2 separate regions of the Homo sapiens genome follow, and region 1 is linked to region 2. The links come from fine-mapping of genetic effects on gene expression. A gene starts in region 2. The other region holds a variant in brackets. All regions are shown on one strand. Distances are from middle to middle.

Evidence for each region.
Region 1: its variant is fine-mapped to the expression of THADA in blood mononuclear cells (TOPMed, PIP 0.91).

The regions. Positions count from the first base shown.
Region 1 is chr2:43,413,431-43,430,043 of GRCh38, reverse strand. THADA (THADA armadillo repeat containing) reads left to right here. Exons shown (of 38, transcript NM_022065.5): 28 at 1,813-1,944. Among named protein-coding and RNA genes, the nearest start is that of THADA, 170 kb to the left of the region's middle. RefSeq lists enhancers at 3,425-3,484, 3,505-3,594, 2,749-3,948, 3,987-4,066. The variant A/C (reference allele first, on the strand shown) is at 6,600.
Region 2 is chr2:43,590,863-43,607,475 of GRCh38, reverse strand. THADA (THADA armadillo repeat containing) reads left to right here and starts at 11,438. Exons shown (of 38, transcript NM_022065.5): 1 at 11,438-11,545; 2 at 15,060-15,159; 3 at 15,430-15,524; 4 at 16,522-16,613. The coding sequence starts at 15,084.

The DNA.
Region 1 (16,613 bases), 180 kb after region 2:
GTGGTGGCCACCACTCCTTGCCCATTTTTGTATTTTTTGTAGAGATGGGGTTTCGTCATGTTTCCCAGGCTGGTCTCAAACTCCTGAGCTCAAGCAATCTGCCCACCTGGGCCTCCCAAAGTGTGGGGATTACAGGCTTGAGCCACTGTGCACGGTCAGACTGCTTCCTTGCATAAAATTGGCTTTTTTATTAAAGTGCTTTTTTGTAATTATATCATATTGCTTGGTTCTCTGTAGTAAATTTGTACCTGAAAAGTTATGTAAAATCCTGTCTTTATATTTTAAAAATGCTATTTTATGTTAAATTTTATCAAACTTAATTCCATTTTCGGTGGTACAGAAACTAGGAATCACATGGTGATTTCTTCTGTTATGAATTATTTTCTTCCTATTTTTAAAAAAATCTGTGTTTACATATTGAGTTTGCTTTATGCATACCTGTCATTTTTTATTACTGGCTTGTTGCAACTTACCATTGTGAAACTATAGCGATTAGCTGACTAATATGATCACTTGTGTTCAGAAATGGTTCTTGTCTACCTGAGCAGAAATGGCCAGTGTTCTTGGAAACACAGAGCAAAGCCATTACGAGGGCTTTCCAGTCTTATAGTTCACCATTGTCTTAAAAATCACATTCTGGCTGGTGTGGTGGCTCACACCTGTAATCCCAGCACTTTGGGAGGCCAAGGCAGGTGGATCACCTGAGGTCAGGAGTTCAAGACCAGCTTGGCCAGCATGGCGAAACCCTGTCTCTATTAAAAATACAAATATTAGCCAGGCTGGTGGTGCGCACCTGTGATCCCAGCTACTTGGGAGGCTGAGGTAGGAGAATCACTTGAACCCAGGAGGCAGAGGTTGCAGTGAGCTGAGATCTTGCCACTGCACTCCAGCTTGGGTGACAGAAAAATACTCCGTCTCAAAAAAAGAAAAAAAAAACACACACACATTCTGAAGCTGGTAGTGGAATTTTTAGTATGGACATCATAAAGCATGTCTTTTGTATTTTTCCTATAATTTTGCACTTGGTATGAATGTACACTAATTGTTTATAATTAGAAAATAAAAGTAATGAATTTTACTTCTGGTTATGATGCATTTGCTCACATTAGTAGTTTATGCTAATGTGCTTTTCTGGCCTTTAGTGACTATTCATGCTTTCTTAAATACATTTGGATGTTGAAAGTTTCACATTTCATACTGTGGAACAGGCACGTCTCTACTGTAGGAACAGTTCTAATCAAAATAGCGTACTCTAATTATGTAAATGATAAGCTTTGAGAAGAGGATCCTGTACGAAAGCCCATTTCCCTGTTTTGCTAGTAGTTTTTTCTTATGATGCACATTTGGGAGATAAGAAGTGAACGTAGAAAAAAAAAAGAAAAAAGGAAAACTATCCCCTTGATTGTGGAGTCTCACTTCATATACATAATTTTGTTTTTGAAATGGAGTCTCACTGTGTCACCCAGGCTGGAGTGCAGTGGCGTGATCTTGGCTCACTGCAACCTCCGCCTCCTAGGTTCAAGTGATTCTCCCACCTCAGCCTCCCGAGTAGCTGGAATTACAGGCATGCGCCACCACATCGGCTAGTTTTTTGTATTAGTAGAGATGAGGTTTTACTGTATTGGCCAGGCTGGTCTTGAACTCCTGACCTCACGTGATCCATCCGCCTCGGCCTCCCAAAGTGCTGGGATTACAGGCATTAGTCACCGCACCCGGCCATATACATAATTATTTCATGAGAAAAATGTTTGAAGGAGGAGTGCTTCACTACCTAAATGTGAAATCTTTCATGTGTAATAATTGTTGTTTCAGTGATATGGGAGAACCAAATCGTCATCCAAGCATGTTTCTCTTACTTTTGGTGTTGGAGAGACTCTACGCTTCCCCGATGGATGGTACTTCTTCTGCTCTCAGCATGGGACCTTTTGTTCCCTTCATTATGAGGTAGTGTCATGCTGTGTAGAAATTGTCTAGGTTGGCGTGGGAGTTTTACGGGAATATTTTATCTTCTTCTTATTTCAGAAACTATTTTATATATATCATATATATTTTATATATATATATTATTTGTTTGTTTGTTTGTTTTTTGAGACGGAGTCTCGCTCTGTCGCCTGGGTTGGAGTGCAGTGGCGCGATCTCGGCTCACTGCAAGCTCCCCCTCCCAGGTTCACGCCATTCTTCTGCCTCAGCCTCCGGAGTAGCTGGGGCTACAGGCACCCGCCACCACGCCTGGATAATTTTTTGTATTTTTAGTAGAGATGGGGTTTCACTGTGTTAGCCAGAATGGTCTCGATCTCCTGACCTTGTGATCCGCCCACCTCATTCTCCCAAAGTGCTGGGATTACAGGCATGAGCCACCGCGCCCGGCCATATTATATATTTTTTTATATATGTAAACCTATTGTATATATTAAAAACTATTATATATATAACTATTATATATATTATATGTAAAACTTTTGTATATAACTATTGTGTGTGTGCGTGTATATATATATAACTTGTATACACACACACACACACACACACACACACACACAAACTTTGGGAGGGGTCTTGTGAAAGCAGAGGCCTGGGTTTTCCTGCCATTGCCCCCAGTGTTTCAGAGTAAGGTGCTTATATTGTGGGTACAGGATCTCATTAGAACCTGTGTAAGTAATGTTTTCTTTGAGCCCTGTCTGCTCCAAGGCAGGTGGATGGTGTTGATAGGAGATACTCCTTTTGAAAGACATAGCCCCATGTTTGCGTTATTCCTGTGTTGAGCCTGGCTAGCACGGAGCAGGCTTGGTTCTGGTATGTATCTTCTGTCCACGGGTTCGAGAGGATGTCAGGACATCTGCCTCTTCACTCTGGAAGAGTCTGCGAGCCGGTGCAATGGGTGGCATGTAAATGGTAATGCCATGTGGCATGAATTCCCACTCGTCTTCTCTTTTACGTTTGTAGTACCTGAAAAAAGCCATGAATATAGAGTATTCATGAAATAATATAACAGGGTTCTCTTCTTTTAGAGCCTATTACCACTTCTTGTGTTACATCTTTTCAGGCATTTGCCGTCTTCTGATTACTTTGTTCATTTTGGATCAAAGGCCTAAATATGTAGGCCTCCAAGAAGTATTAAAATTTTCTCATGAAACCTTTCAGAAGCCTATCATATTAGTTAGCTATTACCTTTCTGCTTAGCTCTTGACAAAACAGTACCTTCATTTTTGTGTTTCTACCAAAAATTGAAGTGGATTTGGAGCAGAAGGGTAAGAAACCAAACTCAAGAGAGTATTTCTTATGTATGTAGTGTCCTAGGTTTCACTTCCTTGTTTCACAGAGCTGACTTATGCATTTTAATGTGAGAAAACCATTAAACATGAGGTTCTGGCATGCGCTTGCAGAGCTATTTGTTTGCGCCAAGCCTTGGCTGTGGCTGTGTTATCTTTGATCACAGAGATGACTCAGGCAGACTGGTTTTTGTTTCCTGATATACAAAGTTACCAGTCTCCTTCATCTGGCATTTGGTGATTCATTTTAGGAATTTGGGTGGTAAATTTTACTTTCAGGGGCCTTAAAAATTGTTCTTTCATGAATAAGTGGAAAGAACTAAGAAATGTTTTCAGAAAGTTGATGCAAGGAGGAAAGGCATGTGCACAGAATTGCAGTTTACATTAGAAACAGAGATTTGCTTTAGAACCTGTGCTCTGTCTTAAGAACATTGAATTTGTGGAAGCTTTTTACTACTCAGTCTGTTGTTCATTGCATCCTAGAAATAATAAATTACTACATTGAAAGTACCTTTCAGTGGTACCTGAAAGTACCTTTCCAAAATGTTGCTTAGTTTACATATAATCAGAATGCTGATACTACTCATTATATTCAAAGTATCCATTATATAAAACAAAGATTGCATTAATATAGAAAATTTAAATATTGCTTTGAAGCCAGTGTACTTAGGGCATCATTTGTTAACCTCTAAAAATACAAAGTAAGAAGTTTGCAATCAGTCTGTTCTTCCAGTGAAAGAAAATGCTGCGGTTGTAGTTGCTTTCTTCCAGTAAGTAAGGTGCTTTATGAAGTAGATTCATAGAACATCACCAACAGCAGAAGTGCCACCAACCAAAATACAAGGTTATTTTGGTGTAACAGAAAGAGCACATCTATCACTCTTGACAAGCCCTGCACTCTTGGGTTCAAATTGTAGCTCTGTAACTGCCTTGCTTGCTCTCTGAACCTCAATTTCCTCAACTTGCAAATGAGGGTGATAACACATCTTCTGAGAGTCACTGTAAGCAAAATGTCCTGTAAGCAGAAGCACCACCCTTGATTCCTTAAGTACAGAGCCTAGGCTCTGACTTATTGACTGTCCATGTGTGTTATAGAACAGTGTTTCTAAAACTTTAAGATGTAAACATATCACTTGGCTATCATATAAATTCTGATTTCAGTAAATCTGAGGTGAGGCCTGAGAGTCCGACTTCCAAATGGTCTTCCAGATAATGCCACTGCTGCTGGTCTGTAGATCACATTTTGAGTAGCAAAATTAAACTTGGGATATTAAATTTAATACCATCACACACACACACACACACACACACACACACACACACACACATACAATTTTAACAAGCTAGACAGTAGTAGCTTATTAAAATTGGTTAGGCAGTTTAAGGAATTTATTAAGAAGTAGATTTTGACCCAGGAATGCAGAAAACAAGAAAGAAAGTGTTCTGAGCAGAGAAGTCAGTAGGAAGTAGACCAACCTTTGTTGAGCCCCGTCTTTCTGCCAAGTATTGAACTGGTCATTTTACTTACAGTGACTCTGAGAAGAGGTGTTATCACCCTCATTTGCCCGTTGAGGAAATTGAGGTTCAGAGAGCAAGGCAGTTACAGAGCTAGAATTTGAACCCAAGAGTGCAGGGCTTGTCAAGGGTGTTAGATGTACTCTTTCTGTTATACCAAAATAACCTTGTTTTTTGGTTGCCTTTTGAGTAGCCAGTAACTTAGCTACACGGAATGGACCTATAGGGTCTGAAATGTATGCAACTGAGAGAGATGAGGAGCCTATATCCACAGCTGCTGTATCTGAGTACAGGCTGTCTTCTGGATATAGACGTAATGTCTCTACCAATGGTGGGATCTGTTCCTTATTTTGCTTTTCCTGTAGGAAAAGTGACTGATTGGATTGGTTAACCATGTGTGGCACATGGTGACAATCGCCTGGGGTTATAGGACTGGTTTGTGGCCAGATACAGTAGAAGCCTGGCTCTTCTTTCTTGGCCACCTTCTGTGGTAAAGTGGAAGGCCCTAGATTTAGTTAGTTTGGGGTTTCATCAGCCTACCACAGGGAAAACCCATGCTACCCCAAAATGTTCACTGGCGAGGTGAACTATAAACAGATTTTTAAAAAGCAGTGAATGTGATAAAACTGTATGCATTTGATTTAGATGACCTCTGAGAATATTATTCATGAAGAAAGTGGAAGGCTGATCATAAAACCTGTCATTCCAGGCAGTGCTTGTGGTTCTGATTGTGGTAAAGAGTGGGCTGTTTTGACTTGGGGTAATAGCTAAAAAGATGGATGGGTGTATGCACAGTGGGTCAGCAGTGTTTTATTTTTGTACCGTTGTTAAGGGTAATTTATGTACTTGGAAGGGTTTTCATCAGGCTCATGGATACTATGAGTTTGGCCAAAGAAAAAAATTTCAGTTTGTGGGAGTAGTGCAAAGGTTGCTCTGACTGCTAAAAGTGAATTGCACAATGAGAAGAAGATTAAAAGCGCCAACAAGAGCTTTTTGTTTCCCTTTGATTTATGTGTACTTACCTGCTATTTCCTTCCTCTCTGTAAGGTATTTATAAGTATTATATGTAGTTTTACTCCTTTATCCCATGTTTAAGAGTATACCTAAACATATATGCCATTATGATTGTTGCATCCTCTTGGGACAGAACTTATAATGTCAATCCCAACATCTTGTATACAACTTTTAAAAAATCCAGTGTATTTTATGTTCTGATGTTGTGCTGCATCCAGATACAAAGCCCTTTACCATGTGAATGTGATGCTTTCAATTTAAGACCATTAATTCATTCTTCAGTTCAGGTACCACAAAGCAGAATAATTCATGCTTTAAAAAGAACCTTGACTGGCTCTCTGAATGCAGCTCACCAGGGCCTGCTTCTCTGGGCTTTCTAGAGACTAGAAAGTCTTTTCAGAGGCCAAAAAGTCCCTGGGCATACATCTCTGAGTTCCCTTTCACAAGCAAGTTTCAAGTTCCAGTCAAAGAGCTCTAGGTAACCACATATGCCTCAAACCTAGGACCATAGAATCCTGAACAAAGGCCCAGGAGAGCTTAGACGAATCAGGTCTCAGAGGCCGAGGCGGGCGGATCACCAAGTCAGGAGATCGAGACCATCCTGGCTAACACGGTGAAACCTCGTCTCTACCAAAAATACAAAAAATTAGCCGGGCATAGTGGCAGGCGCCTGTAGTCCCAGCTACTCGAGAGGCTAAGGCAGGAGAATGGTGTGAACCCAGGAGGCAGAGCTTGCAGTGAGCAGAGATTGTGCCACTGCACTCCAGCCTGAGTGACAGAGCAAGACTCCGTCTCAAAAAA[A/C]AAAAAAAAGAAAGAAAGAAAGTAAAGCTACTTATTTGGTAGGTATATGAAGTCAAAAGACTGATGCTGGTGACATAGCTTCAAATGCTGGAAAGTCCAAGTGAAAATTCTTTTGAGGAGATAGGGAAAGAATCTCTTGCAACTTTATAGCATGATGCTTTATGATTATGCTGTTAATGGCTAAAAGTAGCCATAAAAAAAATGAAGGCAAGCTAGATTGCATGCTTATCAAATTTGTGAGCAAATTAAGATTCAAAATAACCTTCAAGCATAGGACTGACAAACACAAATTCAGGCATAAGACCATTACCTCTGAATGGGGAGGAAAGGGGTGAAATTGAGGAGCCATGTACTAGAAGCTACAATTTTATTTGTGATGTGTTCTTAAATTGGGCATTGGGCAAATGCTTGAATGTCATCCTATTCTCTAGATTCTTTTCGTTGTTGTCATCATTTTGTATGTCTGATGCAGTTCATCATTTAAAAGTAAGATTCGAAATAGCCTGGACCAGCCTGGGCAACATAAGGAGAACCTGTCTCTACAAAAAATTTTAAAAATTAGCCAGACTTGGTGATTTGCGCCTGTAGTCCCAGCTACTTGGGAGGCTGCGGTGGGAGGATTGCTTGAGCCCAGGAGGTCAAGGCAGCTCAAGTGAGCTGTGATTGGGCCACTGCACTGCAGCCTAGGTGACAGAGCGAGACCCTGTCCCCCAAAAAAGCCTTGAAAGACTGGATTGATGGGATGAGACTATCAAGATAACATTTAATAGAGATATATATCATTCTGATTTTTTAAAGAAAAGTCAAAATTATATACATACAAAATGAGGGCTATCTGGCTTCATAGCAGTTTTTGTGGGGGAAAAAATATCTTGGTGAATGAGATATCCTGGTGAACCATGAGAAAGCAGCATGACACTGTTGCTGCTTCCAGATAGTGGAGGCTGTAGTCCCCCTGAACTCTGTTGGTTAGCCTAAACCCACATTATTCTCCTTATTATTCTGTTCTGGGCTCCCCATTTTAGGAAGGTCACTGAAGAACTAGTATCTGTCGAGGGGAGGTGACCAAGATGAGGAGGAAACCAAACATCTGGAAACAGTTAGACTGGAGAAGACTTAGTGGCAACATGATAATGGTCTTTATATACTTGAGAGACTGCCATATGGTAGAAGGCGCATAATTTCTCTTTTTTGCTCCCAATGGGAAAATGGAAGATAGATTTCAGCTTTTAATTTAAAGAAGAATTTTGTGAAAATTAGTATTCTCTATCAAGGAAAAGAACATATTTCCATAATACTGAGTTTGCCCATCAGCAAAAGTGTTAAGTTTTCAAGGAAAACTGATCACATGTTGAGCATATATCTGCAGCGCACCTGAGGTTGGACTGGATATCATCAAGGTATCTGTTTGGCATGCCTTATTTCAGAATAGGTGAACAACTCAGCTGTGGATTCTGAATGTTCAGTGAATGAAATGATCAACCTGCCTCTAATCCTGTGACAATATTTGTACATTTTTGTTTATGGGTCCTTCGATCTCTCAAAGAAAAGAAGTTGGGATGCCATTCTTGGCATGGCCCAAAAAGTCACAGTGGTTTGCTCTTAAATGGCACCCTCCAGGAATTAATCTACTAAAATTTAGCATTTAAGTAACTTCTGTAACTGTGTTCTGGATAGTTCTGAAAACATATTTTTGGCCTATGAGATGTTATGTCTGAAAAGCATTCTTTATTAATTTAATTACCTTTTTTTGTGGTTCCTGTATTTTTCTCCATTCCAGATGTTGGCTTAAGCCACATTTTCTGACAAGCAAAAGAACATCTGAGTCTTTGAGAAGTCAGAGATGCTTTTCTAAAGAGTGGTTATAGTAGATAACTCTTTATTGTCCCAATTTCCCAAAGTATCTTGAACAGAGTTGCCTGGAGAGAGAGTACAGGGGTCTCCAAGCCTTGCTCATTACAAGTAGAAACACCTGAGAAATAGGGCTTTGCCAGTACTGTTGACATAGAACTTCCTGCCCTGGCCAGCACTCTACCTGGTCTGTGGTTACTACTAAATTCCATGAGGTTCAGAGAAGGGAATTATAGGAAAGGAGTATGCCCCCACCCTTCCCCCGCTGCCCAGCCATCCTAATCTGCTAACAGTTGTTGGGTGAAAAAAGGGTTCTGCTATCCCATAATTCTGTGGAAACCCTGGCCCCTTGGTTTCACTATGTGACTGTCTGATACCAGGTCAGGCTTGGGACCAGATTGTTGAGGCACAGGTGTTCAGTGCTGCTCAGTTTTCTTCTTTGCTTATAGGCCAAACTTGCAAAACATGTAAATGCCCCCAGTGTTATCTTCCATGGGGTATTTGTATATTACAGATACATACATTTTGAAATAAAGCAGTAAAACTCTAATGGTGGTGTTTTAGGCCTTATATAGGGAGGATCTAGAAGCAGAGATTGGAAGGTTGTTTCCTATTGCTGGGGAAATCACATTGTTTGGGCAGCTACTTACTCTGCCTCCTTTTTACTGTGCCTAGCACTTTATTTGGAGGGCTGTACTCATGGCCCTCTGAATTTCTGAATTCTACCCAGGGTAGCTGAGGTTCAGCATGTAGTATGAAATTATGTTTTGCATTATGTGTCTTTTTTTGCAAATAGTTCTGGCATAAAAAGATACCTTGTTATCTGTCACCAATTTTTATCTGTTAGTTCCTAGATAGGGGCCTGGCCAACTTCATTTCTGGTGCCAGATCTCTTTAAGACCATTTTCTAAATATGTTTTTGAGCAGAAGGAATGAGGAGTTCACCTCTTATGGAATGCATTGACAAAGCAAACTAGAAAAACAGAACTTGTAGGGACCAGCTTTTCTTCAGTGTTATCTGTTATCCCAACAGGCCAGTTTAGGTCATGTTAGAACAAGTGATTTGATCTGCACACAGTCCCATTCTTAGGTGAAATTTCTGACAATGATGATAATCTATGGCCTATTGCTGCCATTCATACTAGAAGTTAGAATCTAATCAGTTAATTGAGTAACCAAGTATTTGTTAAACATTCATTGTGTACCTAGCTAGTGTTAGGTCTTGGGTAAGATGCAAAGTAAAGAAAAATGTCTTTATGCTTAAAGAACTTACCGTCTAGCTAATAAGGTAAAATACATGCTTGTGAACCTGATACCGTGTATATTAACCACTTAATTATATGACATATACACTAAGGACTGAGGCCTACAAAGAAGGGGAAGAGCATCAGTGGGTTGGAGAAGTCCGGGAGGCTTTCCCAAATAGCAAGGCAGGAAGAAATGTGGGAGTTCAGTCTGCCATCTCAGGGACTTTTAGAAATCACCCATGGTGATTAACAAGTCATGTGAGAGGAGTGAAAAGTCAGGGGGATCCAACAAGGGGAAGATTGTGATGGAGAGTTTTATGATTCATAACTTGGAAGGCATCATAAAGAGCTTTGCTTCCACTTGAACCAAGGGCGACCCAGGAAATTCACAAAATAAATGGTTTGCTATTTAACAGGAGAAACCATTGATGGTGCACCTTTGGTAACTTTAATAAAGAACAGTATTTGTCCTGAGTGTTGCATTTAAGTCTTGTGGAAGTAATGAATTGTAGTGGGAAAAAAAATTTAAATTTAGTAATACTTAACATTTTAAAGTATCTTAACAGTGTTTTTCCATACAGAACTTTTATTTCCTTGTTCTTAAATTGTTTCTCAAAAATTGTAGCAAAGGTGCTCTGCAGGCATTTTTAATGCTGAATTGAAGGATTTCACATTACCAAGCCCCAAATGCTGACTGATAGGCAGTCATCCTACACAGTAGAGAACATTTTAGATCAAAAATGTGTTTTTTTCTTCCAGAAGAAAATAAGAATTGGGAAATAGAATAAGAAGGTAAAGATAAATTATAGAAGGCTTCAAATGAGGACAAGGAAAAATAATGACATAGTGTGTTTCGGTTAGCTTTCTCTGACTGGAATGGGTTTTCCCTTTCCCTCTGGGCCTTGGCCCCCACCGTCTATTTCTAATCTTCTAGTAAAAACAAGCTACACATGTTACATCAGCTGCTCAGGATACCTTCACCCTCACGTCCTTTTACTTTTTCCTTCCTCACTCACTTTGAACATTGTGACTCTTGACTGCTCATCTTGCCTCCCTTCCAACCAGTTATAGACATTCTCTTCTTCACCATTTATTCTTCTCTGTCTCTTTATATTGTGATCACTCTTCATCACCAGTTCATCCTTCCATTAAGTGTATTTACTGAGGGCCTACTTTGTGCCCTTGCCCAACCCAACACCCCTACTCTCATCACCTCTCATTTGCAAGAGAAGATGTGGAGGCCATCAGGTGTGGGTTCTGTCCATGGAGAAACCCACTCCACCCACAGTCCTCTCCTTTGTTTTATAGCCAGGCTCTAGGAAAAGGTGGTCTGTGTTTAGTCTCCATTTTTCCCCTTCTTAACCCACTGCAGCCTGGCCGCTTCTTCCACTGCCTCACTAAACTGCACCAACAAATAGGAGTGACCTCCTTATTAAAAAAGCCACTGGGTGCTTTTCATTCCTTCTCATTTCTGCTTTTTCTCTGGTGTTTGATGCTATTGCAGACTCCTTTCTTCTTGAGTTCTTTCTTCTGTGGCTTCTCTGGCCGTTATTTCTATCTCTCCTTGGAGGGCCCCCTTCCTCCCGCTGCCTCTCAAACATTGGTATACCTGTTTGTCCTGCCCTCAAACCTTTTCTTTTTCACTTTGCATGCTCTCTCTGGGGTTATCACTCACCTACACTTACCTGGTCCTAGATCTAGAACTCATATAGAATCACAAGTTCAACTTTCTATTGGACAGCTTCTTCTGCATGTCTCACACACATCCAAAAGTTGAGAATTTCAATTACCTCTGCACACTGAAGTTTGAACAGCCTTCTTTTAGGGCCTAGTACAATGTCTGACATCTTGCTCTACCTGGCTAGCTGCAGTCAGGGAACTTCTTTAAGGGAAACATATCAGAATCAGGACTCAGGGTGGCACAGAGGTTCCTCCCGCTGTCAGTGACTGTGTTCATGCATACCCAGTAACAAAGGAGCATTGGTTTAAAAAATCACTGACTTCTGAAAGCGCTCCAGTAAGCTTGAAATGATTTGCTTTGCTTCTTACGTTGATTATCATCAGTTTGAGGTAGCAAGTAGCAGGTGCTTGTTCCTTTCTTTGGAGGTGAAAAGCCAAGGCCCAGAGAGAGTAGACATAATATGCCCACATTCAAAAAGTGACTCCCTAAGGAGTCAGGGCAAATTCATTTATTCATTCACTCAACAGATATTTATTGAAAACAATTATGTTTCAGGCACTAGAAACAGAGTGGTGAATCAGACAGATACAGTTTTTGGCATAATGAGGTATCCTTTTTGACGATGCTTCTTATCTCTTCTTTGCTCCTATTTTTTCCATCCTGATTAGTGATAAATGATAATAATTAGCAAATGTTTACTATAAGCCAGGCAATATTTTAGGACTTTACACATATTAACTCATTTAATCATGATGACAGCACTATCAAGTCATTGTCGTTACTATCCCATTCCACAGAGGGGGGGAATGTTGGGCAGTAGGAACTTTCTAAATGTGTCCTACCTAGCTCATACTGGTAGTGATAAGGCGTGAATTTGAACCCAAACAATCTGACTCTAGAACCCATGCTGTTAGCGACTGCTTTAGCTATTCTAGCTCTTAACACTGTAATACTTGCTTTTGCTCATCTGTTTATGATGCTGTGTCTGTGAAGTATGACAGGGTAGTTCTCAGCATGCCAAAATTAACCTGCAGCTTTACCTAACAAACATTTGGACTTACTTTGCTTTCTTGAGATATTTCCCCCCTTGGGCATTTCGTTGGCAGTAGTCTCATTTTCTAATCTGAAATCAGGAGAAAAGGAAGAAAAACTTGCAATAAAGCTTAAGTGGTTGTGACAGGTTGCTAAATAAAACTGGCTCAACTGAAGTTTTGAGATTCTTGAGAAACACTGAGAATTTCTTACAAAGGAAATTTTCCTTATTATAATAGGAAATCATGGGTCATTGCACAGTTATAAGTGTCTTAGTAAAGAGAGAATGTGGCTTGAGGCTAAGAAGCCTAAAATCTTAATGAGATTATTTGTGGGCTGCTATTTATGCATAATTTTTAAACTCTTAGAAAATATGTTTTCTATCTGTCTTTAGTATGTCATCTTAAGTTTCCACTGCTTTACGTAATTTTGAAAATCTTTAGGGTTGCTAGAAAAAAAAAACAATAATAGCAAATGTTTACATAAGAATTTAAGTTTAGAGTGTACTTTCACATATAGTAACTTGATTGTTTCTCTTTTTACTCTCTTATAAAGAAAACAGCCACTCCGTCTCAAAAAAAAAAAAAAAAAAAAAAGAAAACAGCCATGAGGATATCAATTCGTGTTGAAACTTTTTTAAATTGCCAATGTTTTCTTATGCAGTAATTGTAAACTGATTTGGAAAAAAAGGAAATCTAAATCTGTGAAGCGTTTACATTACTGAATAGTATGAAAGGAAGGTTTTGTTACTTAAGATTGCATATAATAACTTCAGGAAACTGCTTTAATGGATAAGTAACAATAGCATCTGGTTGTTAGTTGATCATCTGTACTCCAAGGCCTCTGAAGTGGGTTCACACCGCCCTTGGTTTGCCAATTTTATATCTTTTATGTACATAGTCCTACTGCCCTCTTTTCATAATTATCCAAAGGTTACCAGCCAAAACCTGTGTGGAGGGTACACGGAGGATGAGATGTGTCCCCTGGGGTTTTTGCATTAGGGAAAATTCCTGATCTGGGACATTTGTGCCCTGACCACCAGCCCCCAAGAGATGCCACATTTTTGTCTACTTTAGTTGAAAACTCTCAGTCCTACAGTAGGCTGTAGTAGGCCTCAGTCTGAATAATCACAAAACCAAGAAACATTAATGAGATTTTTCTGTTCAGTTTCTACAGTGTCCGGAGCATTAACAAAATATATATTTGTATGAAATCTACAGGCTACTGTGTAAATAAGCCTGCTCCCTTTTGGTTATTAAATCATACAGGAAAGAAGCATCTGTTTTAGCAGAAACTGTGGAAAAATATATCCAGGTAGCCCAGGAAAAGTTGAATTGTTACTGACAGATGTGTCACCACAGACAAGAAAAGAATTTACAAAGCAGTGGACAGACAATATTTTCAGACAATAATCTGTCTTTTTGGGTGATGTGTGGGTAGCATTGGTTTGTTTCTTGCCTGAATGTTTATTCATTTTTTTCCCAGGAGAATCCCTTTTGCTCAGCTTCTTTCTGGTTTGGATAAAATGAAAAGTAAAATTGACTTAATACTAATTATAACCTGCATAATTCTACTGAAGAGAAACTTAAGAAATAGAATTATTTTTTCTAGTTAAGCTTCAGGGTCATATAATTATTATAATTCAATCATTTATTATCCCCCCACCCTTTTTTCTGTGTGATTTAAGACATCAGAATTTAATTTGTAGCCAGAATGAAAACTGGACTTAAGAAAAGCTTGACTAGAGAGAGATTTGCATTCTGCTGCGTGGTTGAACATGTCTCTAAAGTAGCAGCTTTAGAATGCCATGTCCTGATAGAATTCCCCGTTGAAAGCTAGCCAGCAGAGCAGCTTCCTTGTGTCCTCCTCCTTGCCTGACCCACCGTGAAGCGTCACGAGGGCCCTAGATATGAACCTCGGGGGCTCCACAGCCTGACAGAAGAGAACTAGTGTCGCTGGGCAATCCATGATCTGGCACAGAAGCCCCAGGCTCTAGATTTTGTAATTGGCCACCCACCCTGGCCCAACCTTGGATAAATATTCCTGAGTTCTAAGTAGGATGAGGAATTTAAATCCCTGTTTTTTCCTGAGTTCTTCCATAACCAGTCCACGACATTGTTATGAGATCTGAGTGGAGTGCCCATGCTTGGAGAGGGAATAAAGGGAGCACGTTCTACTACTACTAATGAATACATACTCCCATTAACAGTCCCTTTTTCCCTAGGAATGATGCCACTGGAAGGGCCAGATGTGACTCCACTGTAGTCACTGACCCAGACCAGCTTTACCCCTAGGGTAATTGAAACCTATATTAAATGATTTGACAGGTCATAAGCAGTGCCCTCTACCCACTTAATTTTCTCAGATGCCTCCTCCATTATGAGCTAAACCTTGTAGATTTTCATTCTTTTAGTATATGGTTTTGATCCCTTCTAAAATGGACATCTCAATGAAACATAAATTACTTAAAAGTTATTAGTAGTCATTTATGCCATAGTATGAATTAGTTTACGTTTCTTTGGTTTTGACAGGAAGATAAATAGAATACGTTGGGGAGAAAATGTAGAACTCGAAACAAAGGGAGAAAGCAAGTTGCCACCTTTGGAAGACTGCAGTGATTTCTTTCCCATTAGAATTTGCTCTCATGTTTTCAGTGAAGCATGGCATCGTGTTTTCCATTCACCTCTCCTTTCTGGCAGGGAAAGACTTGGAGTTCTTTTTACAGCTTTAACTCTTTCTTACCCCTTCTAGATGTAGTTCCATTTCCTTTCTAAGATGAAAGCTTGTCTTTGTGCCCTCCCAGAATAGTTCCAAGCAGCAGAACACAGTGAATCCTTCCAGATAAAAGACCCTGCTGATAAAGTGCCAGATTGTTATCAGAGAAGCAGTGAGGGGAGTCAAGTCCCTACCATTAATTACCTAGTTACAGTTTTGTTTATATCCTGTTCATTTGGGGCATGTTTTTCTTGGACAGTTTCTAGTCTGTGTTCTGAACTGAAGTCTGAAGTTTGTAAAAATCCCAAAGGTCAAGGAATAGTGGGTTCCTTATTTTCTGAAAGGTTTAATGGCAAGGAAGAGAAGATCAAAGTTTCTATCTTTCATCTGGAAGGAAATAGACAAATGCTTCATTTTGGTGGTTCATTCCTCACCTCAAGCATACAAACCATAGTATGTTGGATGAACTCTGACTTCGAATACCTAGCCAAGAGGTTACCTGGAAATAGAATGACATGTATCTCTGTGAAGACGTGAGTATCAACCAATGAATGACTAGATATCCACGCATCAAGGCCAGAGTCCAGTTGAATCTAAAATAAAGCTTCTTGGTAAATGTACTTGATGCCACTGAACTGTACACTTAAAAATGGTTAAAATGGTAAATTTTAGGTTATGTGTGTTTTACCACAACAAAAGTAAATATTACTTCCTGACAGCTCCAGTGCTTCAGTCACAGTTGCAAATACAGTTGGACCTCATCCAATCATTTATGGATTCAACCAACTGTAGATCAAAAACATTTGGAGAAAAAGTAAACACAACAATAAAACACAATGCAAATGTAAAAACAATACAACATAACAACTTACATAACATTTACATTGTATTAAATATTATAAGTATTCTAGAGATTATTTAAGGTGTACCAGAGGATATGCATAGGTTATATGCAAATACTGTGCATACTTTACATAAGGGACGTGAGCATCTCACGGGTCCTAGAACCAATCCTTTGAGGATTCTGAGGGCCAACTGTACAATATGGGTGGGCTGCATGGCCTGCATTATTTTGAATGGGATTGCTGTTGCATATAAAGCATTATGTATCCATTTAAGAACTGTGGGACTGTGAGTACCGAATACCTTAATGAACAGAAGAAGATGAAGAGACCATTTTGTCACCATCATACAAACATACTAGGAAGTTTGGGATTGGAAAAGAGCCCTTTCTGTCTTGAAAATGATTGACTCTGAACCATGATAGCCACTCTCTTTCTACAAATGAACCAAAAGAAGTGGCAATGGGTCACTTGATGGCTGAAATAGTAGTGCCTAAGGCTTTGATTATCAAATAGTGATATTGATATGTTCCACAACTAGAAATGTAGTATTAGGTAAGGCAACCTCATCTGTGGTATCTGGCAGCCATTAAGTAGCCAAGCATATATTTCTTGACCGTATTAAATTTGTATCTCACCTTATGCT
Region 2 (16,613 bases):
CATGCTGCTTATACAGCCTGCAGAACCGTGAGCCCAGATAAACCTCTCTTCTTTATAAATTGCCCAGCCCTGGGTACTCCTTTATAGCAATGAAAAGGGACTAACACCGGGGGATGAGACCTGGATTGTGGAGACATCCCAGGGTGGTAAAGTGGTGACACTGGACTTACCTTTCCCCAGAAGTTTATTCATATTCCAAAGGGTTAAAGTAAAAACCCAGGAATCTTCCCATCGTGTTTCCAGAGAAACTCTTGGAAGAAGGAAGAAGTACAGCTGCCTCTCCCTTCTACATCAACACCTAGATTAAATTGGGGGAGTGGGGGTTCCTCACTTATAATACATATTACTTACATGTAGAGTTTGTTCAGCCACCTCTCGTTGTATCATTAAGGGATAAGAATTTGGGTACAGGGGATCCATGGGATTGTTTTTGGCTGTAAGTAAATAACAGTAATCCGCTCTGCTCCAGAAACCTTACGTGTGGATACAGGATAATATTAGTTAATATGGATATTAAAAACTTAACTCAATGCCGAGTGTGGTGGCTCACATCTATAATCCTTGCACTTTGGGAGGCCGAGGCCGGCAGATCGCCTGAGCTCAGGAGTTCAAGACCAGCCTGGGCAAAATGGTGAAACCCCATCTCTACACATTAAAAAAAAAAAATCTGGGTATGGTGGCACCTGCCTGTAGTACTAGCTACTCAGGAGGCTGAGGTGAGAGGATCACTTGAGCCCAGTGAGGTCGAGGTTGCAGTGAGTCGTGATCACAACCACTGCTCTCCAGCCTGAGTGACAGAGTGAGACCCTGTCTCAACAACAACAACAAACCCCAACACAATATTTACCTTTTTCAAAAGATTGGAACTATGTTTTATACAGTGTCTTCTCCCTTTGCAGAACCCTGGTAGAGTGGAATCCTACTGTCAAAAATGGACATCAAACTTTTCCATCTCTTCCTGTCCCAGGGATTCCTTCTTCAGATGTCCCCCAAAAACCATAGTAGTGAGCTACTAGTCCCGTCTCCTATGGATAGGGCTAAGAATTGGGATTGCCATATGGACAGATGTTTTTGAATGGGGGAATAATGAGGGGATACAAGAATGCTTTGTGCAACAAGAATGAGAAAAAAACTTTCTTTTCAAAAGCATTTTAATCAAAGATGGTGCTATGCATTTTAAATTTTTATATACTTAGAGGAAAAACTTTAGACAAATTAACTTTAACAGAGTTTGAGTAATGAACGGTTCTCAAATTGGGCAGCCCCCAGAATCGTAATAGGTTCAGGGTGACCCCTGGGCTTTGGCATGGTTGGATAACATTTATGGACAGAAAAAGGAAAGTGACCTGTAGAAGTGATGCACAGAAACAACTGGATTGGTTACAGCTGGGCATTTGCTTTATTTGAACCTGGTTTGAACAGCTGGCTGCTTGTGACTGGCTGAGCCTCTGCTACTTAAGAGATCAGGTTACAGTCTGTTTAACATCAAGTTAGGTTACAACCAACTAAGTATGGAGAAAACAGTAGGCCAAACTTAAAATATGTACGGAGGCTAAACTCAATTTAAGAATACGGCTTTCTATCTGTGCCCAACGCAACCATGGGCTTTCTTTAAGATGACAGTATTATAATCCAAATGGTAAAAAATGGCAGCTTTGTGGTAATTTGGGCATGTTCCAATTAGCAACTCTACAACCTATAAAAACAGGCCTTAAAGGTTTATTAAGCCCATGTTAGAACACTAAAGAAAATTTAAGAAAAAAACTCACTCACAATCTTACTCGCCTGACAAACTGCTTCTCCAAACCCATTCTCTTCCAAACCCTGTTCATAGTACCCATTATTTTACAAAGTTGAAAACACAATGTGTATATAATTTTCTGTTCTAATATTTTTAGATCATATTATTTTACAACTATTTTTACTTATTATTACATTTTCTTTTAAAGTTTAAATATTTGTTTATTTGATATAAAAAGTACAAACAACAATGTGGATAAATTTAAAAACAGTATTGAGCAATGTTATGAACAAAGTAATTTTCCATTGGATAGTTGTATTTCATAATAAATTTAGTATATTATTTCAACTGAGCTGGCAAGTTATACTATAGTTTGTGAATACTCATCTCAGCTCTCCTCCTTATTTTAAACGGTGGAAATACTTCTGTAGTTTGCTGCCACACAGTGGTAAAGTAAGCACCATTGCACGCTGCCACTGCAGAGGACTTGCTGGCCTGGTTATCCTAACTCAACAATTTGCAGAGCTACTCATGCTGGCCACTGTGCTGGGCACTAGGAATCTAAAGATGGTGTCCAACATGGAAAAGTTTATAAATCAGTAGGAAGACTGACAAGCATAAGAATAATTACTATCAACTAACAAACTGATAATGCTGTCACTGAGACAGAAATCTAAGTATGATGGAGAATAGGAATTTCTTGTCAGGTTTCACTGAGGAGGTAAAATGTGAGATGAAGCCTAGCAGAGAGCACAGTCGATGAAAGGACAATGCTTTCAGGGAATATTGAGGTCACTCAAGTGGGAACTTGGTGTGTGTGGAAGGAAGAGGGTGGTGTCACACAGACAACAGTCACTACATATTCTTACGTGGGAAGGAATTGTGGTTTTGTTTTTTGTTTTTTGGGGTTTTCTTTTTTTTTTTTTTGAGATGGAATCTAGTTCTGTCGCCCAGGTTGGAGTGCAGTGGCACGATCTCAGCTCACTGCAACCTCTGCCTCCTAGGTTCAAGTGATTCCCCTGCTTCAGCCTCCCAAGTAGCTGGGGTTACAGGCTCCTGCCACCACGCCAGGCTAATTTTTGTATTTTTAGTAGAGATTGGGTTTCACCATGTTGGCCAGGCTGGTCTCTAACTCCTGACCTCAAGTAATCTGCCCGCCTCAGCCTCCCAAAGTGTTGGGATTACAAGTGTGAGCCATAGCGCCCAGCCCCTCAGGAAGGGATTGCTTAGGAAGAGAAAGTTTGAAGAATATCTAAAAGGTTTCTTAAAATCAACCTAGTTTTATGTTTATGTTCTATGCTGACTTACATGAAAATGTATGTCATTAAAGGTAAATAACTTTGTAAGAAGACATGAAAATTATTGTTTCCTTAAGATACTCTATGGAAATTATATTCAAATAAATCATAAATAAGTCTTTCCTTAGTTATGATCCCTTAGTGCATTTTAGGCAGCAAGGGAAATCTGCAAAGGTGTTATCATTACTATATGAAATGGTTTGGATCTGTGTCACCACCAAATCTTATGTTGAAATGTAATCCCCTGTGTTGGAGGTGGGGCCTGGTAGGAGGTGTTTGGATCATGGGGGCATATCCCTCATGAATGGCTTCGCCTATCCCTTCGGTGATAAGTGAGTCAGTTCTCGTAAGATCTGGTTTTGTAAAAGTGGCACCTACCTCCCACTCCACTCTCTCTTGCTCCTGCTTTTACCATGTGATGTGGCCGTTCCCTCTGTCTTCCGTCATGATTGTAAGCTTCCTGAGGTCTCCCTAGAAGCAGATGCTGGTGCAATGCTTTCTGGATGGCCTACAGAACTATGAGCCCATTAAACATTTTTTTTTTCCTAAATTGCCCAGCCTTTTTTTTTTTTTTTTTTTTTTCTAAATTGCCCATCCTCAGGTATTTCTTTTTTTCTTTCTTGGTTTTTTTTTTTTTGTTTTTTTGTTTTTTTAAGATGGAGTCTTGCTCTTGTCACCCAGTCTGGAGTCCAATGGCCCAATGTCGGCTCACTGCAACCTCTGCCTCCTGGTTCAAGTGATTCTCCTGCCTCAGCCTCCTGAGTAGCTGGGACTACAGGTGCGTGCCACCATGCCCAGCTAATTTTTGTATTTTTAGTAGAGACAGGGTTTCACCATGTTGTCCAGGCTGGTCTTGAACTCCTGACCTCAGGTGATCCACCTGCCTCAGCCTCCCAAAGTGCTGGGACTACTGGCATGAGCCACTGCACCCAGTCTCTGGTATTTCTTTATAGCAATGCAAGGATGGCCTAATACACTATGGTTGGCAGCCTCTAAATCGGCCCTCCAATGATACCGGCTTCCTGGTATGCACACCTTTGTGTAGAGCCTCCCTCACTGAATAGAGCTGACCTTTGTAACCAATAGGATACTGTCAAAATGATGCTGTGTTGCTTTGTGGCTCAGCCATTAAAGTCACTGAATCTTCCACCTTGTACTCTCTTGCTTATTTTTGGGAAGGCCAGCTGCCATGTTGTAAGATGGCCCAAGCAGCTGGGAAGAGGTCCATGTAGAGAGGAGCTGGAGGCTTGTGTCAGCAACCAGCACCAAGAAGTCAGTCAATCATCTTGGGAGCTGATTCTCCAGCCTCAGCCAAGCTGTCAGGTGACTGTAGCCCCAGCCAACATCTTCACTGAAACCTCATGAGAGACTCCTAGCCAGACACATTCAGCCAAATTGAATTTCTAACCCACAGAAACTAAGAGATAATACATGTTTATTGTTTTAAGACAGATAAATAGATATATAAGTAATAGTACAGTACTTTGCTTTCTTTCACTGACTTGGGGCCAAACATATTAAATAACACAATATTTATATTCATAGGTCTAGTATACAGTTTTGGGCTTCATTTTAGATATAAAACTATTCAGGCCGGGCGCGGTGGCTCACGCCTGTAATCCCAGCATTTTGGGAGGCTGAGGTGGGTGGATCACCTGAGGTCGGGAGTTCGAGACCAGCCTGAACAACATGGAGAAACCCCCCTCTCTACTAAAAATACAAAATTAGCCGGGCATGGTGGCGCATGCCAGTAATCCCAGCTACTTGGGAGGCTGAGGCAGGAGAATCGCTTGAACCCGGGAGGTGGAGGTTGCGGTGAGCCGAGATCGTGCCACTGCACTCCAGCCTGGGCAACAAGAGCGAAACTCCATCTAAAACAAACAAATAAACAAACAAAAACCTCAAACTATTTAATATGGGGGATTGCTGAATTATACATGGCACCATGCATTGTTCGCAGAGTACCATACGTGATAATTTTGGGAGATGTAAAAATGACTATGAAACTGGGAGACACTATCATGTTTTTCTGTACAGAAAAGATTACTTGCAAGAGAACCTTACTTTTGACTGGTCAGTCACACTGCTTCTGAAGTTTTGGCTGTTATTGACCTTCATGAACAGGTAGTAATTATGTAGGCAATTAAAGCCTTTCTTTTGTGGCCTTAAAAGGTCAAATTTTACTTATTCAAATGTCCATTCAAATGTAAAAGAATCTTAATAATTACATATAAAATCATGTCATTAAATAATAATAATTTTTTTGTAGAGACGGTCTCTCTCTGTTGCCCAGACTGGAGTGCAGTGGCTGTTCACAGTTGTGATCATAGCATGCTGCAGCCTCGAACTCCTGGGCTCAAACAATCCTCTTGCCTCAGCCTCCCAAGTAGCTGGGATTACAGTCAGAAGTCACTGCGCCCAACTCTAAATAATTATTTTTAAAATTCCCTTTTCTAATTGAGTGGAAAATATTATTTTTACAGGTACATATTTGCAATGCTAAACTACATTAAAGAAAATGTCGACACAAGGATTACTTTTTATGATTTTTATCTAGTCCACTGTTACTATGTCAAGTATTTTCTTTTTCAAGATGGAATCTCCCTTTGTCACCCAGGCTGGAGTGCAGTGGTGTGATCTGGCTCACTGCAACCTCCACCTGCCGGGGTTCAAGCGATTCTCCTGCCTCAGCATCCTGAATAGTTGGGATGACAGGCGCCCGCCACCATGCCCGGCTAATTTTTGTATTTTTAGTAGAGATGGGGTTTCACCATATTGGCCAGACTGGCCTCAATCTCCTGACCTCAAGTGACCCACCTGCCTTGGCCTCCCAAAATGTTGGGATTACAGGCATGAGCCACCGCACCAGGCCTTGTCAAGTGTTTTCATTTACACTTTTATATACTAAGGATCCTTTAAAAATTTCCTTGGAACACATGTTCACAAATAAAATACATAGTTACTTTATAAAAGTTTGTAGTTCAAATTCATGCTATTGTGTCCTGAAAAACCTCAAGCAGTGTATTTAAAGTGGTCTCAAGTTGGTAGTGCCACCAGATGCCTAGCAAAAAAGAGGATATCTTCTTCAAAGATGTCACTATTTCAACCTTTAAAACAAAACCTTTGTTGCCTGGAAATAATTGGGGTTTGTACGTTTGGAAAGTAACAGATGATTCTCTACGAGAACGTAGGGGTTTTTTGTTGTTGTTGTTGTTGTTGTTGTTTTTGAGAATTTTATTTATTGATTTATTGATTCACTTTATTTTTTATTTTTTTCCCATAAGTTATTGGGGCACAGGTGGTATTTGCTTGCATGAGTAAGTTCTTTAGTGTTAGTTTGTAAGATTTTGGTGCACCCATCACCCAAGCAGTATACACTACACCATATTTGTCGTCTTTTATCCCTCGCTCCCCTCCCACTCTTCCCAAGTCTCCAAAGTCCATTGTATCATTCTTATGCCTTTGTGTCCTCATAGCTTAGCTCCTAATGATCAGTGAGAACATATGATGTTTGATTTTCAATTTCTGAGTTACTTCACTTAGAATAATAGTCTCCAATCTCATCCAGGTCACTGCAAATGCTGTTAATTCATTCCTTTTTATGGCCAAGCAGTATTCCATTGTATACATATACCACAGTTTCTTTACCCACTCGTTGATTGATGGGCATTTGGGTTGGTTCCAAGATTTTGCAACTGTGAATTGTGCTGCTATAAACATGCATGTGCAAGTATATTTTTTGTATAATAACATTTCCTCTGGGTAGATACCCAGTAGGGGGATTGCTGGATCAAATGGTAGTTCTACTTTCAGTTCTTTAAGGAATCTCTACACTGTTTTCCATAGTGGCTGTACTAGTTTACATTCCCACTAGCAGTGTAGAAGTGTTCCCTGATCACCACATTCATGCCAACATCTACTGTTTTTTGATTTTTTTGATTATGGCCATTCTTGCAGGAGTAAGGTGGTATTGCATCGTGATTTTGATTTGCATTTTCCTGATCATTAGTGATGTTGAGCATTTTTCATATGTTTGTTGGCCATTTGTGTATCTTCTTCTTCTTCTTCTTCTTCTTTTTTTAGATGGAGTTTCGCTCTTGTTGCCCAGGCTGGAGTGTAATGGTGAGATCTCGGCTCACCGCAACCTCCACCTCCCGGGTTCAAGTGATTCTCCTGCTTCAGCCTCCCAAGTAGCTGGGATTACAGGCATGCACCACCATGCCTGGCTAATTTTGTATTTTTTAGTAGAGACAGGGTTTCTCCATATTGGTCAGGCTGGTCTCAAACTCCTGACCTCAGGTGATCTGCCCGCCTTGGCCTCCCAAAGTGCTGAGATTACAGGTGTGAGCCACTGTGCCTGGCCCTTCTTTTGAGAATTGCCCATTCATATCCTTAGCCCTTTTTGATGGAATTGTTTGTTTTTTTCTTACTGATTTGTTTGAGTTCATTGTAGATTCCGGATATTAGTCCTTTGTCAGATTTATAGATTGTGAAGATTTTCTCCCACTCTGTGGGTTACCTGTTTACTCTGCTGACTGTTCTTTGCCGTGCAAAAGCTCTTTACTTTAACTAAGTCCCAACTATTTATCTCTGTTTTTATTGTATTTGCTTTTGAGTTCTTGGTCATGAAATCCTTGCCTAAGCCAACGTCAGGGTTTTTCCAATGTTATCTTCTAGAGTTTTTAGAGTGTCAGGTCTTAGATTTAAATCCTTAACCCATCTTGAGTTGATTTTTGTATAAGGTGAGAGATGAGGATTCAGTTTCATTCTCCTATGTGTGACTAGCCAATTATCTCAGCATCTTTTGTTGAAAAGGGTGTCCTTTCCCAACTTTAGGTTTTTGTTTGCTTTGTCGAAGCTCAGTTGGCCATAAGTATTTGGGTTTATTTCTGGGTTCTCTATTCTGTTCCATTGGTCTATGTGCCTATTTTTATACCAGTACTATGCTGTTTCGGTGACTATGGCCTTATAGCATAGTTTGAAATCAGGTAGTGTGATGCCTCCAGATTTGTTATTTCTGCTTAGTCTTGCTTTGGCTATGCGGGCTCTTTTTTTGTTCCATATGAATTTTAGCATTGTTTTTTCTAATTCTGTGAGGAATAATGGTGGTATTTCGATGGGGATTGCATTGGATTTGTAGATTGCTTTTGGCAGTATACTTCCTCTAGGTGTTACCATTCCATTTATCTGCCCCTTGCGTACTAGAAGGACTAGAAGGAGTTGCCTCTGCTTGATCTTGCCAATTCCTCTCTTCCCAGTCTCTTTTAAACCCATTCAAATCTGCTCCAAGTAAACTTTGGCAACTTCATCCTTCTAGGTGCTCAGGCCAGAAACTTTGGACTCATCTTTGACTCTTCATTTCTTCATACCCATATTCTATCCTTCAGAAAAAAATCCTGTTAGCTCTGCTTTCAAATTATATCCAAAACCTGTCCACTTCCCGCTCTCCACTGCTACCACCCTGGTCAGTGCCACCAGCATCCTGCCTGCCTAGTTTACCACAACAGCCTCACTGGGCTTCCTGCAGGCTCTACAGTCTTTTATTTTTTTTTCTGTTTTGTGACGGAGTCTCACTCTGCAGCTCAAGCTGGAGTGCAGTGGCGCAATGCTAGCTCACTGCAACCTCTGCCTCTGGGGCTCAAGCAATTCTCGTGCCTCAGCCTCCCGAGTAGCTGCGACTACAGGCACACAACATCATGCCCAGCTAATTTTTTTTTTGCATTTTTGTAGAGACGAGGTTTCACCATGTTCCCCAGGGTGGTCTTGAACTTCTGAGCTCAGGTGATCCACCCGCCTCAGCCTCCCAAAGCGTTGGGATTACAGGCGTGAGCCACCGCGTCCGACCTACAGTCTCTTCTTAACAAAGTAGCTCCAGTGATTATTTTGAAATGTACATTAGATGTTATTATTCTTTTGCTCAAAATCACTCCTCATTTCATGAAAGAGTCCATGAAATAATGTGAAAGCCTTATATAATCCAAAGCCCCTTGTCCCACTCCTTAGTATTTACCTTGCTTGGCTCCGGCCACTCTTGCCTCCTTGCTATTCTCCCAGCAGGCAAGCCCTGCCCTGGAAACTTTGTACTGGCTGTTCCCTCTGTATGGAAGGTTTCCCCTTCACCAAGTGTCTATGTCTCTTGGAAATCTTTACTCAGTGAGGCCTACCCTGATTACCCTATTTAAAGTTGCAATGTACCTCCCCTATACTCTCACTTTCCATTCCCCTATTTTTTCCATGGCGGTGTTAAATTGAACTAAATACCGCCTGAGAAAGCCTCTGCACTTCCATATTTGAGTCCTTGTGGATGAACCATAACCTAACTTAGTAGGTAGACAAGACTGAAAGCCTAATTTAGGAGTGTGCTTCTGTAACAATAGCTGAGTTTCAGCCAATCCCAGCAGCCATACTTCAACTATTCATACAATGCTTACTGTTCAAACTGTGTTCAGGTAAGGCAAATGCCAAGCTGTAACCCATCCAGCTGCTTCCGTACCTCACTTGCTTTTTGTACATCACTTTCCTTTCTTTGTCTGTAAATGTGCTCTGACCACGAGGCATCCCTGGAGTCTCTCTGAATCTGCTATGATTCTGGAGACTGCCCGATTTGAGAATCATTTTTCCCCTTGCTCAATTAAACCCTGTTAAGTTTAATTTGTCTGAAGTTTTAACAGTAGCTTCACCTTTCAACATATGTTTATTATGTTTGCTCCCTAGCCCACCTCTCGCTGTGCAGGGTGAAGAGTTGCAGTGTCTGCCAACAAAAAAGGGGTTCGGACCCACTGAGTTATATAATTAGTAGGTCTGAAACAATATACATATTTTAAAAAACATAAAACTTAAAAATGGTTAAAATGGTAAATTTTGCTGTGTATTTTACCATAATTTAGAAAAAAAGGAAATAAAATCTCACAGCTCCTGTAAAGTAGCATTTCAAGAAATTTTTACTTCAGTTATGTGTGAGTACTTCTACGTCCACAGTTTCAAAGTCTGCAATGTATTTCTTACTATGTCAGGGTCAAAAATACCAGAAAAAATTATGGTGGAGAACCGTCTGCACACACTCACCAGCTGACATGCACAACATAGTTCACAGCAGCAATGTTTAGAACAAAAACTGGAAATAATGCACATGTTAAGAGGCAGCAGGATGGATACATAATGAAGTATATTAAACAATGGAAAATTACGGTCCGGGCGCCATGGCTCACGCCTGTAATCCCAGCACTTTTGGAGACCGAGGCGGGCGAATCACGAGGTCAGGAGTTCAAGACCAGCATGAGCAACATGGTGAAACCCCGTCTCCACTAAAAAATACAAAAATTAGCTGAGCGTGGTGGCGCGCGCCTGTAATCCCGGTTACTTAGGAGGCTGAGGCAGGAGAATCACTTGAACCCGGGAGGCAGAGTTTGCAGTGAGCCGAGATCGCGCCACTGCACTCCAGCCTGGGCGAAGAGCACTACAGCCACCTGTAGGTGAATATGAAAAGCAATGCTGAAAGAAGCAAATTGCTGGAGAATACATACGCAATTCCAAAAGCTTCAAAATTGAACGAAACAAGATAGTGATACATACATTATGTGGTAAAGCTATAAAGAAAACCAAGGCAAGCTGATATAAAAAATTCAGAAAATAATTATTAAAAACTTAAGTCATTAACGTTTAGAGAACTGAAATGTCTCTATTTTCCAAATTAATACTCCTGATAATAGCATCAGGTCTTTCCTGATCTTGCCCACTGTCGCAGCTCCCAGTGACACCCCGTTATTGTATTTATTTTTCAAGGACTGAACCATCTGACAATTTGTATGTGCTGCGTAATACATGTATCCTCAGTAGGGGATAGCTTTCAAGGCTAGCGCTTGGCGACGCTCTGACAGTAGAGTTCATTATCTATTGAATGAATATATGCGCTTTGGCACACGTTGGTTCAGCACTACTCATTTTAGTCCGAATCCTTCTCGTGGCTTCCGTTCAGTCGCCGCCCAAACCCCTGCCCCATCTCGCAGGCTCTAAACTCCCTGGACTCGTTCCCGAGTCCCAGACGTAGTTTTCTCCTAGACTCTGCACTGGGCCAACAGAGTGGGAGAAAGGTGGAAGGTCTGGATTGGGAGAAAAGCGCTTCCCAGGCGTCCAAGCATGTGAAGAGAATGAGGTCTTTTCATTCAACAAGAGACCGTTGAATGAAGGCCCCTCAGCAACAAGGCCCGTCAGCCCTAACGCCATGAGGAACGCGCGGCGCTGACGGTACAGTGGCTGGTTAACTAAACCGGATTGCTACCGGCCACCCCGGTGACGTCACGACCTCCTCGAACTCCTGATTGGAGGAGCTGCGTTTGGTCAATTCTCGCGATGACTCCTCCAGGTTACCCCTCTCTCCCTCCCTTTGCCCTGACCCGGTAGTCGACCGTGGACCGCGCTGCGAGCCTCGGAGACGCCGTAGAAGGAGACCTGCTTCCGGGACTGGACCAGGCGCCTGCGACTCTTCTCAGACGCCGACGTGCACGAGGTTTGGCTCCCAGGTGTCCTGCCTGCCAGACCCGCGGTAGCTCGGCTCGGCCAGTTTTGCTAGGGCTGCCTGGCGAGCCACACCAATTCCCATCCTTTGGTATCGCCAGGATTCGGCGGCTGTGAAACTGATTTCCGGTCGCTAAGGTCTCCATGGAGACAGCACTTTAACCACTTTCTCCCACTGTCATTCCTCGACTCCACGTGGTTCAGAAATCGCCCAGAGAATGTTTGTGGGAGTCAGCCAGGAAGGTGTAGAGTGAAGCAGCGTTCTAAAGGGAAGCAGTAAGTGGGACCTAGGAGGAGTGTAATTTACTGGGCACCTTCTGGCCTTGCGGTAGACACGGGATTTACCCCCTTGGGGACCCTGGTTCTTCAGGACACACGTTTAGGCATCATTTGAGCAGGCATAATTACCGAGTCTGCTTTTGTGTAGCCCTCAGAATTGCAAGAGCAAATCCTCCTGCAAACTTGCTTACCTTTCACCAGAGAATAGTCTCCCTAGTTAGGTTTCCCAGTCTCTTCTGGCTTTGTACGATGGTCACTTTCTTAGGAAGCGTGCCTCTATTCCTCTAGATCTGACTATCCCTTTACAAATTATTCTGTTGTCGACACTTTCCTAGCTGCGTCCATTTTTGGTTAAGTGGTTGCTCACCTGCCATTACTGTATGGATTTCTTACTTCCCAAACAGACCATAGGTTCTTAAGATGTAGAATGTCACTTAGATGTAGAATGCATTTTAGGTACCAGATAGTCCACCTTCCTGCCCTTAAAGACATATATCCCTTCTAGAACATCTCTGACAAATGTTTGTTAATTAATTTGTTTATTCGTGAAGTGTTTGTTAAACACCTACTATGTGCCAGGCACTGGTTTGGAAATTGAGACTTGAAACATGAACAAAATAGATTAAAGTTGCTGCCTTCATTCAGTTTGCTACTAGGTGAGACAGACAATATACAAATTTACAAGTTAGGGTAATTTCTGGTACTAGTAAGTGCTATGAAGAAAATTAACGGAAATGGTGTCTACGTGTGTTGTATTGGTGAGATTTTAGATAGAGTGGTCATGGAAGGCTTTTAGAAGGTAATGTTGCAGCAGAAACATGAATGGTGAGAAGGAGTCAGTCTTGCAAAGATGTGGAATGAACATTAAGGGGCAGAGATACTGAGAAGTGTAAAGCCTCTTAGGTGGGAATAAGAGCATCAGGAAGTACAAAGCTCTTGAGATGGTGAAGAGGAGATTGGTTTGAGATGAAGAGTGGAGGAAGGCAGGGTCAGATTATTTAGGGCCTTGAAGGGCAAAATCTCAAGTATTTATTTATTTATTTATTTATTTATTTATTTGAGATGGAGTTTCGCTCTTGTCTCCCAGGCTGGAGTGCAGTGGCACGATCTCGGCTCACTGCAACCTCTGCCTCCTGGGTTCAAGCCATTCTCCTGCCTCAGCCTCCGGAGTAGCTGGGGTTATAGGCGCCTGCCACCACACCCGGCTAATTTTTGTATTTTTAGTTAGTGCAGACGGGGTTTCACCATGTTGGCCAGGCTGGTCTTGAACTCCTGACTTCAGGAGATCCACCCGCCTCGGCCTCCCAAAGTGCTGGGATTACAGGCACGAGCCCCCACTCCTGGCCTCAAGTTTGAATTTTATTCTAAGTGTATTTAGAAACCCTTGGAAAGTTTTAAGGAAGAGAGTAAGTAATTCAATTTGATGAGAGTTTTTTTTAAAGAGATTGCTTTGATGATTGTAAACAGAATGGGCTCTTTGGAGGTAAGTGTAGAAGTCAGGAGACCAGTTAGGGAGCTGTTTCAGGAGTCCAAGAGAAAATATTCAGTCATCTTCTCTTTGAATATTCCTGGTGTTGGAAAATTTCTTTGTTTAAAAGGTAGCCCAGTCCTTAGTGGGACCATAGAGCTTTTCCTTTGTATTGATCTGGAATCTGTTTCCCTGTAGCTTGTACTGACTTTTACTAATCTAATAGCAAGACAAGAAGTCTAAGGCTGGGCGCGGTGGCTCACGCCTGTAATCCCAGCACTTTGGGGGGCCGAGGTGGGTGGATCACGAGGTCAGGAGATCGAGACCATCCTGGCTAACATGATGAAACCCCGTCTCTACTAAAAATAGAAAAAATTAGCCGGGCGTGGTGGCGGGCGCCTGTAGTCCCAGCTACTCGGGAGGCTGAGGCAGGAGAATGGCCTGAACCCAGGAGGCTGAGCTTGCAGTGAGCGCAGATCGCGCCACTGCACTCCAGCATGGGCGAAGGAGCAAGACTCCGTCTCAAAAAAAAAAAAAAAAAAAAAGTCTGTAGTAGACAAATAAATCTATTCCCTTTTTCTCCAAAACAGTCTAGCAGCTGTTTTAAGGCTCTTGTTCTGTTGACTTTTTCTCCAGGCCAAACACCTTTGGTTAACTGAGCTGTTCTCTGAAGGAGGTGCTCTCTAGGTCCTTCAGAAATAGTTCCATTGTTTGTTATGGCTCCTTAGAGTATGGCCGCCAGCGCTGTACCTAATGCTCTACATGTCACCTGGCCTGTTTGAATAAAATCATGCACTCTGATATGGCTGACTTCTGTGGTTTTTGGCAGTCATCTTGGGCTGTTGAGCTGTTTCAAACCACGTTTTGCCTCTCCAGCCTCTCTTTCTGTGTTTTTTTCCCCTAAACTAAATGCAGCCCTTTGTATTTATTTCTGTTTCATCTTGGTAAATTTCATATTGCTCGTTATTCCAGTTTATTGACCTGTTTTTATTCCTGATTCCATCATTCAACATGTCCTTCCAGATTTATTTTATACATGTACTACATTATAGTCTCTAATATTTGCATCATAAATACTGCTAAAGATGCTAACTGCATCAAGAGAAGAGCCCTATGACATTTCCCTAGCAACTTCTTTCCAGATGGCATGGTACTATTAGTGTGTAGTTGTGTAGTCTCTGAGTTGGGTTGTTTAGCCTGTTATGAACCCGTTGATTTGTTAAGTATCGATAAAAGCAAACTCAAGAGAATAGCATTAAAAAAATATTTTTTTTCATTTTTGCAGAAATCAGGACACGGTAGTACCTCCTCTTAGTCTAATGAGTCACTGAGGTTAGTTTGAAGTATTTTATCTTTGGAAAAACTATCCCAGTTTTTTTGTGTGTATGTTCACTAAAAGGAAAGTTTGCTGTATTTTAAAATACAAAGACTGAGTCATAGTAGGTAAAATAACTTCAGTCAGTAATAAGCTTCAGCTTAAAACATTTTTCTTCTTCAAATCAGAAATTCTTAGACAGTGATTCTCATTCTGGAGCAGTTTTGCTCCCCAGGGGACACTTCACAGTGTTTGGAGACATATTTTGGTTGTCAGAACTTGGGAGGGAGGAGGGTGCCACTGGCATCTAGTGGGTAGAGATGGGGATGCATGAAACATAATGCATAGGATGATACTGTTCAACAAAGAATGAACCCAGCCAAAAATCATAGTGCTGAGGTTGAGAAACCTTACATTAATGCCTTAAAGTCTTCTTTCTTGCAGTGACTACTATTAATTCTATTTAAAATGGGTGTAAAGAAGAAGAAAGAAATGCAAGTTGCTGCGCTGACCATTTGCCATCAGGACCTTGAAACTTTGAAATGTAGGTGACTTCTGGTTTCCCTTATTATATTTTTTTCTAGTTTGCAAGCAGAGTATTTTAATGACTGGGACCCCTAGCATATAATATTCAAATTCTTTATATTTTTCCTTATGTTTTGGATGTAAAACAATTTTCTTAAAATTCTGTCTTCAGACTATGTTCCACCTATTGCTATGGTTTATAATTAAAAAATTTTGTAGAATGCACAACAAAGGCAAAGTTAACTCACTGTTAAATCATTGAAAATTTTTTTTTGTATATGTTATATAGCTTTTGCTGATGTGGAAGGGAAAAATCTAGCTTCTTTGCTGTTACATTGTGTGCAACTCACGGATGGAGTGTCACAAATCCATTATATTAAACAGGTAAGTCTGAATTGATATTCATGGATGCATCTTTAAGAGTATCATGCTATTAAGGATTTAAAAAAAATCACTGACAGTTTTTGGTCCCTAATTATTGCATATCAGTTTATCATTAGCAAATAAGTATTTTTTTTTTTCTGTTTATTGTATAATATCCTTGTATTCAAAGCAGCAATAGAAGCCATATTCAGACTTCTATCATAATTGAACTGTAAACAGATAAGGTAGAAGATAATGTGCATACCTCTTTTGTGGAGATAAATTTTAAAATATATGAATCTTCAAAACTTTTTAGCAGACACATTTAAAAGTTAATTTAAAATATAAAGATTATACTTATTAGTATTTCAGTATTAGGATTTACCATTTGAGCACACATAGTTTTTTTTTTTGGAAAGCAAGTAAATGTATTACTGGTTTTTTAATAGTGCTACAGCTGTTCTTTACTGTAAGCCATTAACAGGTCTGTGATTCTCTGTGGAGGTGGGTCTGGAGGGTAAAGAGGGAGGTGGGGACATGAGTTTAAAAAGTTAATAAATAGTGAAATAGGTGTTTAAATCAGTATCCTTGACAGTGGAGTATGGAAAACATTTCACGTAATTGACACTTTGTTTTATTTATTTTTTTGAGATAGGGTCTCACTCTCTTACCCAGGCTGGAGTGCACTGGTGTGATCTTGGCTCAACCACAGCCTCAACCTCCTGGGCTCAAGCAATCCTCCTGCCTCAGCCCCCTGAGTAGCTGGGACTACAGGCATGTGCCACCATGCCTGGCTAATTTTTGTATTTTTTTGTAGAGACAGGGTTTCACCATGTTGCCCGAGCTTGTCTCGAACTCTCCTGGGCTCAAGCGATCTGCCCACCTCAGCCTCCCAAAGTGTTGGGATTACAGGGGTGAGCCACTGTACCCAGCAATTGAGACTTCAAAGAGTATCTGTAACCATGTTACTTTGCTATATTTGATATTATAAAAATTACTTCAATGTTTTGTATTATAGATTGTGCCTCTGCTGGAGAAAGCAGATAAAAATGGCATGTGTGATCCCACTATTCAAAGTTGTTTGGATATCTTAGCAGGCATTTATCTTTC